Regions from separate parts of the Homo sapiens genome. Here region 2 is linked to region 1. The links come from fine-mapping of genetic effects on gene expression. A gene starts in region 1. The other region holds a variant in brackets. All regions are shown on one strand. Distances are between the middles of the regions.

Region 1 (4,374 bases):
TGTCATTTCCCCAGCCTTCCAGACCCAGGAAGCCCAAGGCCCTCTCCACTTCATCTCCACGGACTACCCACCCCAAGCCAGCCATGTCCACTCACCCGTAAGTCCGCTGGATCAAGGTGGGGTGCAGCTGCTGCACCCCAATGGCAAAGCCTAAAACGAGAGAACAATCAGGGACTTGGCCTTGCTGCACGAGCCACGTCTCAAGGGCTGCACACAGGGTGGCAGAATCCCACAAGCCACACACCTCTAGTCAAAAGGGATCATCCGCTTCCTCTCCCCTCCCAGGCCTCCCCCTTGTGAACCCCAAGGCACACCGCTGAAGTGTGGCAGTGAGTGACGCAGGTGTCAGCAGCCACTGGTGTCGGCACTCCCAACCTCCAGGCCCCATGGCCACTTCCTCCCTCCTGCGAGGACAGCTGGCAACTGGGGTGCAGTACCCTCCCTGCCCCCCGCCCCCTTCTTTGGGCCACACGCTGTGAGAAGGGGTCTAGATCCTCGAGGGGGGGATGGCTGCCCTGTGCCGGCTCTGCAGGCACATGATAGCCGACTGCCACTGCTGGGGCGAGGAGGGGGGGCCTCTTTCCACCCGACAGATACCGACACCCAATATAGAAACCGAGAAGAGCCAGGCAGGAAAACACAAGCTCTCACCCGTCTGGAGGCTCCGCGGCTTGGCGCCCAGATATGCCAGGTTCACGTTGGCCTTGCGGCCGTCGATGATGGGGTTCGGGTCTTTGCAAGCCCTCTCAGCTGCCGCCCGGTCGGCCATGGTCACCTGGTGGAGCAGAGACACATCAGGGGCTGCCGTGGGGGGAACCAGGGGCGAAAGGGGCAGACGGCTCCGCCCTGGCACCGGATGCTGCCACCCCTCTCTTCCCTTCCTCTGAGGGTGCCTGTGACCCAGGGTCCTTGAGCCAAAGCTCCTCTGAACCCTACCTGGGGCTCTCCCACAAAGATGCCTCCTGGATTCCAGCTCCTCCCGTCAAAGTTCAAGGCCTGGGAAATGTGGCCTTCAAGGACAAAAATAATCCCCTGCGGGGATAGGGCAAAAATGAACCCCGAAGGGAGCTTGGGGGGCCGCCTGGACTTGCCCACCAGTGAGGGCCGAGACTTTCCTCTGAGAAGGAGTTTGCGACGCTATGCTTGGAAGGTAAGCAGGAAAGTGTCTTCAAGACGTTTTTACTTAAGCTGATGTTTATTTGGGGCGGCTGAGAGGGCTGTTAAAAATATGGGGGAGGCCGAAGAGCTCCTAACACCCCGGGGTGGAGCCATTGCTCCTCACCCCCCGCTGCTCCAGGAAATCCCGAGTGCCCTCTGGCTCCAAAACCTCCCCACCAACTTAGGAGTCCTAATTGAACACAGCGGCTCTTCCTTTTAAACCGGGGGTGGGGGTGGGGGTGGGGGTGGGGGTGGGGGCCGGGGCCTGGGGTGGTGGGGGCGGGACCGGCAGGAGCGCGCCCGGGAGAGGCGGCAGGTGCGGGCGCCGGCTGGAGGCGCCTGGGGCGGGGGCGGCAGCGGGCCGTCTGGGCGTGTGCCCCGGAGTGGACTCGGCGCCCGGGCCGCGATAAGGTGTGCGGCGGGGTGCGGGCCCGGGCGCGGGGGCCACTTACGAAGCCGTAGCCGCGGGACTTGCCCGTCTGGCGGTCGGTGATGACCACGGCCTCCTCGATGTCGCCGAAGCCCTCGAAGTACTTCCTGAGCGAGGCGTCGGTAGTGTGGTACGGCAGGCCGCCCACGAAGATCTTGGTGAACGTGGTGTCCTTCTGCGAGCCGTGCATGGCGCCGGGGGCGGCCAGGGGCCGCGGGAAGCCCGCGCTCGGGGCGCACGGCGCGGGCTGCAGCAGCATGGGGGGCGCCCCGCCGCCTACGGACCCGGGCCGCGCGGGGCTGCGCTCATGGGGGGCGGCGGGGAGCGCGCGGGGCAGCGAGGGGCGCCCGTCCAGCCGCCAGGCCCGACCACTCCGGCGCCCGTCCCGCCGTGCGCGCCGACGTGCGCCGCGCTGCGCTCCCGACCGGCGCTGCGGGGACTCTGCGCCCCGGCACCGCCCCCGGGCTTTGTAGCCTGCCGCCCCCGCCAGCTCAGCCCCGCCCCCAGCCGGCCCCGCCCCGCCCCGGGCGCGCGGGGACCGCCGGGAAGCGTAGTTCTAACCCCGCCCAGCCGCACCCGGGCGCGCGGCGATTGGGGGGAGGGGGGAGGGGAGCGCACGCGGGCTGAGGGCGGATCCGGGCCTGGGGGCGCTGGGCGCGCCTTTCTCTCCTGGCTGCCCCCGCGGGCCCGGCCGGTTGCAGGCACTAAGCACAACCCTGAACTAGGGAGGCCAGGCCCCTTCCCTCGTGGAGCGCACCGTCTGGTGAATTAAACGTAAAAAACGTAAAAAAACGTAAACGGTTTTTAGCATCTTGTTAATTGAGTCGGTATTTAACCCAGGGCGACTTAGGGAAGAGCCACGTGCCATATTAAAAAAGGGAAATGATTTCTGTTTTATATGTAAGATTAGTTCATCCGACCGATATTTACTCTGGGCGCGAGGCTGCAGCGGAGCACAGATCATATTCCCTGGCCCCACGGAGCGTCCAGGACTGAGAATTCGGCTAGTAAACATACAGCATACGACCCCGGAGGGAGCTACACCACGGTGCCGCGATAGAAGCGGGTCCCGGGCGGTCTCAGAGGCCCCGCGGGAGATGAGGTGGGCAGAGGAAGCAGGTGTGGGCTCTTTCCAGCTCCACCCCGTTCTGGGCTGGTGTCAGGGACCCTTGGGGCGAGTAAGAGCAGACCCGGGTCCCTCATCCGGCCCCCAGCCATAGAAAGGCGGCGCATAGTGGGGCTCTGTGAGCTTCACACCAGGCAGGGCCAGCCACAGAATTTTCGGGGCCCAGTGCAAAATGCAAACGCGGGGCCCCTTATTCAAAAGCTAGGAATTTCAAGTTGGCAGCGGTTGAGCATGAAACTCAGCCCCGGGCTTTCCTGAGCGAAGGGAAGGGCCGTGTGACTGCACAGACCCCGGGATCCCGGACCTGCGGGTCACACCCTCCACCTCTGAAGCCGGGACTAGGGGCCTCAAGCCCGCCTCATCTCCAGCCCCCGCGGTTGGGACCTATGCAGCTGGGAAACAGCAGCTCTAATTGGGGTCACTCCCGGCCCCAGCCCTGCGGCCTCCTCTCAGCACAGGGCGACGCAGGTGGGGTCTGTGGGGACTGGGAGTGGCACTCCGTGGGCTGTGGGGGACCGCAAGGCCGGCGAGGAGTTCCCCTCGTTTCCTCCAGCACCGAGGAGTTCTCCGCGTTTCCTCCAGCCCTCTGCCCTGGCTGCCGGCGGGGAGGAGTCTGCCCGCCCCCTCCCCCACTCCACGGCCCACGCTCCACGCGGCAGCCTTGACCTCTGACCTCTCCCTCCCCCAGCTCCCGCTCTAGCCCTCTGCACAGTGGGGATGGGACCCCCGAGTCTTCCGGAAGCCTGGGCGTCCTTTCCTCCCTTCCCCCTTCGTTCCTCGTTCCTGGCGCTCCTGCCCCCGCTTGCGGCCCCCGTTGCCCTTCATCCCGCGTGGTTTCCTCTCCTTCCTTCGCGGAGTTTCCCACCTCCCCGGCCCTGTGTGTTCGCCTGCCTGGAGCCCCTCCCCTGCTATTTGGGCGCTGCGAGAACAGGGACCTGGGATGTTTTGCCCAAGCTGGAGGGCCTGGCAAGGAGAGGGCTCTGGGATATGTTTGTTGAGTGTATCCACGATGGAACAAGGTGGGGTGGGGGAAAGCTCTGGCCCAGCCGGAGGCCCTTCGAAGCGACTTTGAAAACTTTCATTTAAGTGTGACCTTCACTTGCCCCCTAGAGGCCGGGGGAGGCGGCCACTGCGCGGCCGCGTGCTTTTGCGCCAGCTGGATCCCTTCACCAGGCCTCGGTTTCCCCTTCAGTTTTTCCAAGGCTGTCCCCAGCCGTCGCGTTGCCTGGGCAGGCTGGAGCCGCGTCGGTGGCGTGGCCACGGGCTTCAGCCCGGAGGCGCCCGGGCTCCCGGCCTACAAGTCCCAGCGCCGCCCGGGCCCGCCTCGCCCGCGCCCCTCCCGGCACGACAGCCCCACAAAGGGGTGCGGCCGCTCGGCTGCTGCCGCGGGGGCCGGGCCCAGGCGGCAGGGCAGCCCCGGGGCCTCTGCCTGCCCGGAAGGGGGCGGGACAGGGCCGTGGAGGCTGGAGACGCGGTTGCCCAGGTGCGGGTCCAGTCGCACTCCTTCGCCCCCCGCCCCCGGGCCCCCTTGGGTATCTGGATCACCAATCCCTCCCCCCCTCCGGCGGCCCCATGTCTCCACGGGTCACCAGCTTCTGCCTGACAATCAGTCATTCACCCAAACACACACTTTTTTTTTTTTTTTTTTTGAGACAAGGTC
Region 2 (4,374 bases), 53 kb before region 1:
CCATCCAACTGATGGTTCAGGCTAAATTGTCAACTCATAGAATCATGTTTTAAGCAACTAGGTTTTGGGACGATTTGTTACATAGCAGTAGCTAACTGATACACTCACAGTCACACAACTGTTAAAGGCTGAGTCAGGACTCAAGGCAGGAGTCGGGTTTGTGGGACTCCAGAATCCATGCTCTCAACCTCTGTATTTTGCTGCCTCCCAGAAGGAAAATGAGGATAACAGGGCTCTAGCTGCTAAAGAGCCCTTCTCTTGTGTCCCAACATTCAGCTACATCTTCTAGGGAACGTGCCTAATCCCTGGCTCTCTCCTGCCCTGGCACCTCCTTTCATCCCCTGAGCCGTGCTCTTTCATCTCCTACCCTTACAAGGGTCTGGGTGGGGACAAAGCACTGGCTGCCACTTCAGGTTTCCCTGAGCCCCTACTTTGATCCGCTCCAACCCTGCTCGTTTTCAAGGTTTGTTCAGAATGCTGGCAAGAGCCAATGTTTCTACACGTACCTATCAGCAGCCATGATGAAAACCAGCTGTGAGGTTTAAAAATAGCCCCCAAGGGCTGCCAAAAATGCCAGGTCCCTGACTCGGAGAGGAGAAGCCAATCCCAAGGTGCGGCCACCATCATCAGGGAAGAGTCATAGCCACCACATGCCCAGGAGTCTTCCATGCCAGTCCCACAGGACTTGCCACAGGAGCTCAGCTGAGCCCGAGTCCCTAGGAGCAAAAGCCCCCGGAGAAGCGGGGATGGAGTTCGAGACCAGCCTGGTCGACATGGTGAAACCCCATCTCTACTGAAACTACGAAAATGAGCTGAGTAGTCCCAGCTACTCAGGAGGCTGAGGCAGGAGAATTGCTTGAACCCGGGAGGCAGAGGTTGCAGTGAGCCGAGATCGTGCCACTGCACTCCAGCCTGGGCAACAGAGCGAGACTCTGTCTCAAAGAAGGAGGAGGAGGAGAAGGAGGAGGAGGAGGAGGAGGAAGAGGAGGAGGAGGAGGAGGGAGGGGAAAATAAGGCAGGGCCCAGAAAGCCTCCCAGGGGCCTCTTCCCCCTCCTGCTTCCCACACCTCCTGCTGCCCCTCCCTCCTCCCCCCTTCCATCATTCTCTCCCCTTCCCTCTTTTTTTATTGCGTCCGAAGGGAAGAGACTGGGCTGTGGAGGGAGACTGCCTAGATCCCCCTCGGGAATTCTGTGATCCTAGGCAAGTGACGTCACCCTTGAGCCTCAGTTTCCTCATCTGTCACACGGAGGTCTGGCTTGCTGGGTGTCCTAAGGACCTACTAGGACGATGAGTCGGTGAGAGCACGATGCCGTCATTTCTTCTTTGGAGAAGGATGGGGATGAGGAGAGTGCCCTCCTCTCTTCTCCCTCTTTCTCCCTCCTTCCTGCCCTCCATCCTCTTTCCGCTCCCACACGCCCCTGGCCTGGCCCCCATGTGACGGCCCCCAGGGCCAGGGATCTGCCAAGCTGAGTCTACCTGCAGTGCAGCCCTGTTGCCCTGGGGCGCCCTGGGCCTGGCTCGCTGAGGGAGCCCAGACCAGGCCCGCTGCACCACCCCATCAGCTCCCACATCAGCCCTGTGCTGGGTGTTTGGCTCACAGCTATATCCCAGTGCCTACAATGCTGCATGGCACCTAGTAGGTGCTTAACAAATATTTGCTGAGTGACCGCAGGAACCAGCAGTAATTGTTCCCATTGACAAATGAGAAACTGAGGCTCCAAGAAGTTGGCTAGCTTATAGCAGAGCACAGCCCTTAAAGCTTGAGGGGACCCACATAAACAAAAGGGATAAAGGAAGGATGGGGGAATCTGCATTTTACATAAGATAACACAGACAAAATGGGGTAGGGGAACAATCAGATATGCATTTGTGTTTGGCAGGCCGGTCCTACCCAAGGTCCCAGAGGCGGATTTGAACCCAGTTTTGCTGGTGAATGACACCCCATTTTCTCATCTCTTCTAGCC[G/A]GCTTTCCCCTTACAGGCCAAAGCCTGTCACACAGGCGCTGTGTGGCCTTAGGTGATTCACACACCCTCTCTGAGCCTTGGTTCCTGCATTTGTAAAACAGAAAACTGACCTAGCTGCACTCAGGCACAATTTCCCTGGGCTCATTTTTCCTCTGTTCTCAGCATCCAGCACAGGCTGTGGCGTGAGGTCCACACCAAATAAATCTCTGTTAGTTAATTAATGAAAAGGACAAGTTTACTTTAGAGTATAAAAGTCTGCTCCGAAGCTCTCCAGTTACCGTCTCTGGGAGCATATTCTTTCTCTCTTCCATTTCAAAGAAAGAGAAACTGCAAAGGCACAAGATACACTGGAGATGTGGGTTATGCAAGGAAGATGAGGGGACCACCCCAAGCAGCAGAGCACCCCACCCCACTCAGAAAGACCTTTTTCCTCCATCAAAAAATAGGTGAATGAATGGGAAATGCCAGTCTTTCCATTGAAATGCAATCTTGAGGGACGAGTATTTCACAGGCCATGGACCGGCCTTGGTGCTGACTTTGACGCACACCAGCTCCTGGTCCTGAGCGTGTCAGCGGGGAAATGCCCTGCTTCTCCAGCTTTGCAGGATGGTTGTTCACGGCTTCTAGGACAGCGCTGTTCCAGGCTCTGGGAGACCCCGATGAGCAGCCGAACCCTGTCTATCCCTGAGGGAGCGGATGTCATGTGGGGCATCCGGAAGGTTCTGAGCAATTCTGCTTGGAATCTCAGAGGTTCCAACAGAACAGCTGCAAGTTACCAGTTGACACGTTCAAGCACCTGGATGGGTGGTCAGTTTCTGTAGATCCCAGAGAACTTTCTGGAAAGGTGGCAGTGTGTGCCCCTAGGGCAAGAGTCAAAGGTGGTAGCCACCCAGGGAGCCCCAAGGAGAGGTTCTGGCGCTCTCAGGACATCCAGGCCACACCAGTCTTCCAGGCACCCCCCCCGCCCCACCTCCAGGCACACCAGCTCTGCCCAGGTTGCCCAACCTGTATGTGTCCGGGTCATGGCCATCGTCACCCACAGCGTCACAGGCGTCCTGGCCAGCACCTGCCTCCTGCTAAAACGCTAAAAACAGCTGCATTACCTTGCCGGCCTCCAGTCCCTGAGAACAAACTCACCTGGCTTAAATAGAGTGGCTGGAAGAGCACTTTCATTAGGGGCCGCACATTCTGACATAGGGCTCCTGGCTGCTCCCCAGGTTGGGGGCTGGGGGGTGTCACTTTTATAAACTTCCACAGACCCTTCTTGCCAAGCCTACTGGACAACAGAGGCTATGATGAATCCAGGCTGACCGGCAGGTCCTGGCACCACTCACCTCAGAGTCTAAGGCCAGGCTGGAGTGACCAGGCTGGAGTGGTCAGGCCCCGCCCACCTGAGCTGCAGAGGGGCAGAGGGGACAGGGCCGGCTGCATGGGGTGTGACCTGTGCAGTCGCAGAGGGACCCTCACACTCAGAAGGGCCGCCTGTTGGTTTAATGCTCTGCTGTTGTCGTCTTAAAAGTCTTCGTCGTTTTTGAACGTTTGGAGGGGGGGCCACATTTTTACTTTGCACTGAATGCCTCTGAGGGACTCATAAGTGGGCCCCATCCCCCCAGGAGTCCCAGAACTCATGAAGGGGCTTCAGAAATGAGCAGCAGCAGAACCACAGACATCCCCAGGCCGGGGCCACCCTCTCGAGTATCCCGCGCCCTGGCTGTTGGGCTGCACGGTCACGTTCCCATGGTTGTGCTAATAGGGGTTGGGAGGGACATGCGTACACACACAGCCATGCAGTCACATGTGCAATAGCTGGTCACCCCACGCCTGCACTTCCAGCACTGGGAGTGGCTGGGAGGCCTCACCATGCCCCCATCACACCTAAGATAATGAGACAGCAGGGAGGGCAGGAGGAGCTGAGGAGGGGGTGTCAGGGACAGAAAGAGAGCCCTTGCCTCCCCCATCTCCGAGGAAAGGAGAGATCCCTCCCTCGCCCTGCTGTCAATCTTCCAGGAACTCCCTGCAGGGCCCTGAGAGGTGTGCATCTTGTCCCCTTGAACTCCCGCTGCCACCCTGAGATAGCGTTTGTATCACACCCATTTTAAGGATAGCAAAACTGAGGCTCCAAGAGCCAAAGCTGCTGGCTGGAACCAAGGCGAGCAGACACAGGAGCCTCATGCCCCGTAGTGGCTCCTAAGGGAGGACCTGCCCCCTGCCCCTCCCCCTGCCCATTCCTCTGCCCACACTGGCTCATGGTCATGGGGGTCTTCCCTCCTCAACCAGCACGCATGCGCCTTCCTCATCATAGCCACAGTTGGAGGGCAGGTCACTGCCCAAGGGCCCTCAGTGTGCTCCTGAGCCCGGGCCCGCTTCCCAAACCGCTTGGCCAGCCTTGCCCTTTGGCCCCAAAGACCA

The links. PIP is the estimated chance that this variant, and not a neighbour inherited with it, causes the effect. A credible set is the group of variants that fine-mapping cannot tell apart.
Region 2: its variant is the best candidate, but not a certain one, in a credible set for the expression of RBM38 in pancreas (GTEx, PIP 0.90).

The regions. Positions count from the first base shown.
Region 1 is chr20:57,389,055-57,393,428 of GRCh38, reverse strand. RBM38 (RNA binding motif protein 38) reads right to left here and starts at 2,033. Exons shown (of 4, transcript NM_017495.6): 1 at 1,611-2,033; 2 at 652-775; 3 at 96-150. The coding sequence starts at 1,847. RBM38-AS1 (RBM38 antisense RNA 1) reads left to right here and starts at 373. Exons shown (of 2, transcript NR_149006.1): 1 at 373-1,150. RefSeq lists enhancers at 371-560, 1,315-1,814, 1,815-2,316 and silencers at 1,411-1,600, 1,951-2,350, 3,961-4,340.
Region 2 is chr20:57,441,698-57,446,071 of GRCh38, reverse strand. No RefSeq gene overlaps it. Among named protein-coding and RNA genes, the nearest start is that of RBM38-AS1, 51 kb to the right of the region's middle. RefSeq lists enhancers at 4,024-4,374, 1,835-4,374. The variant G/A (reference allele first, on the strand shown) is at 1,966.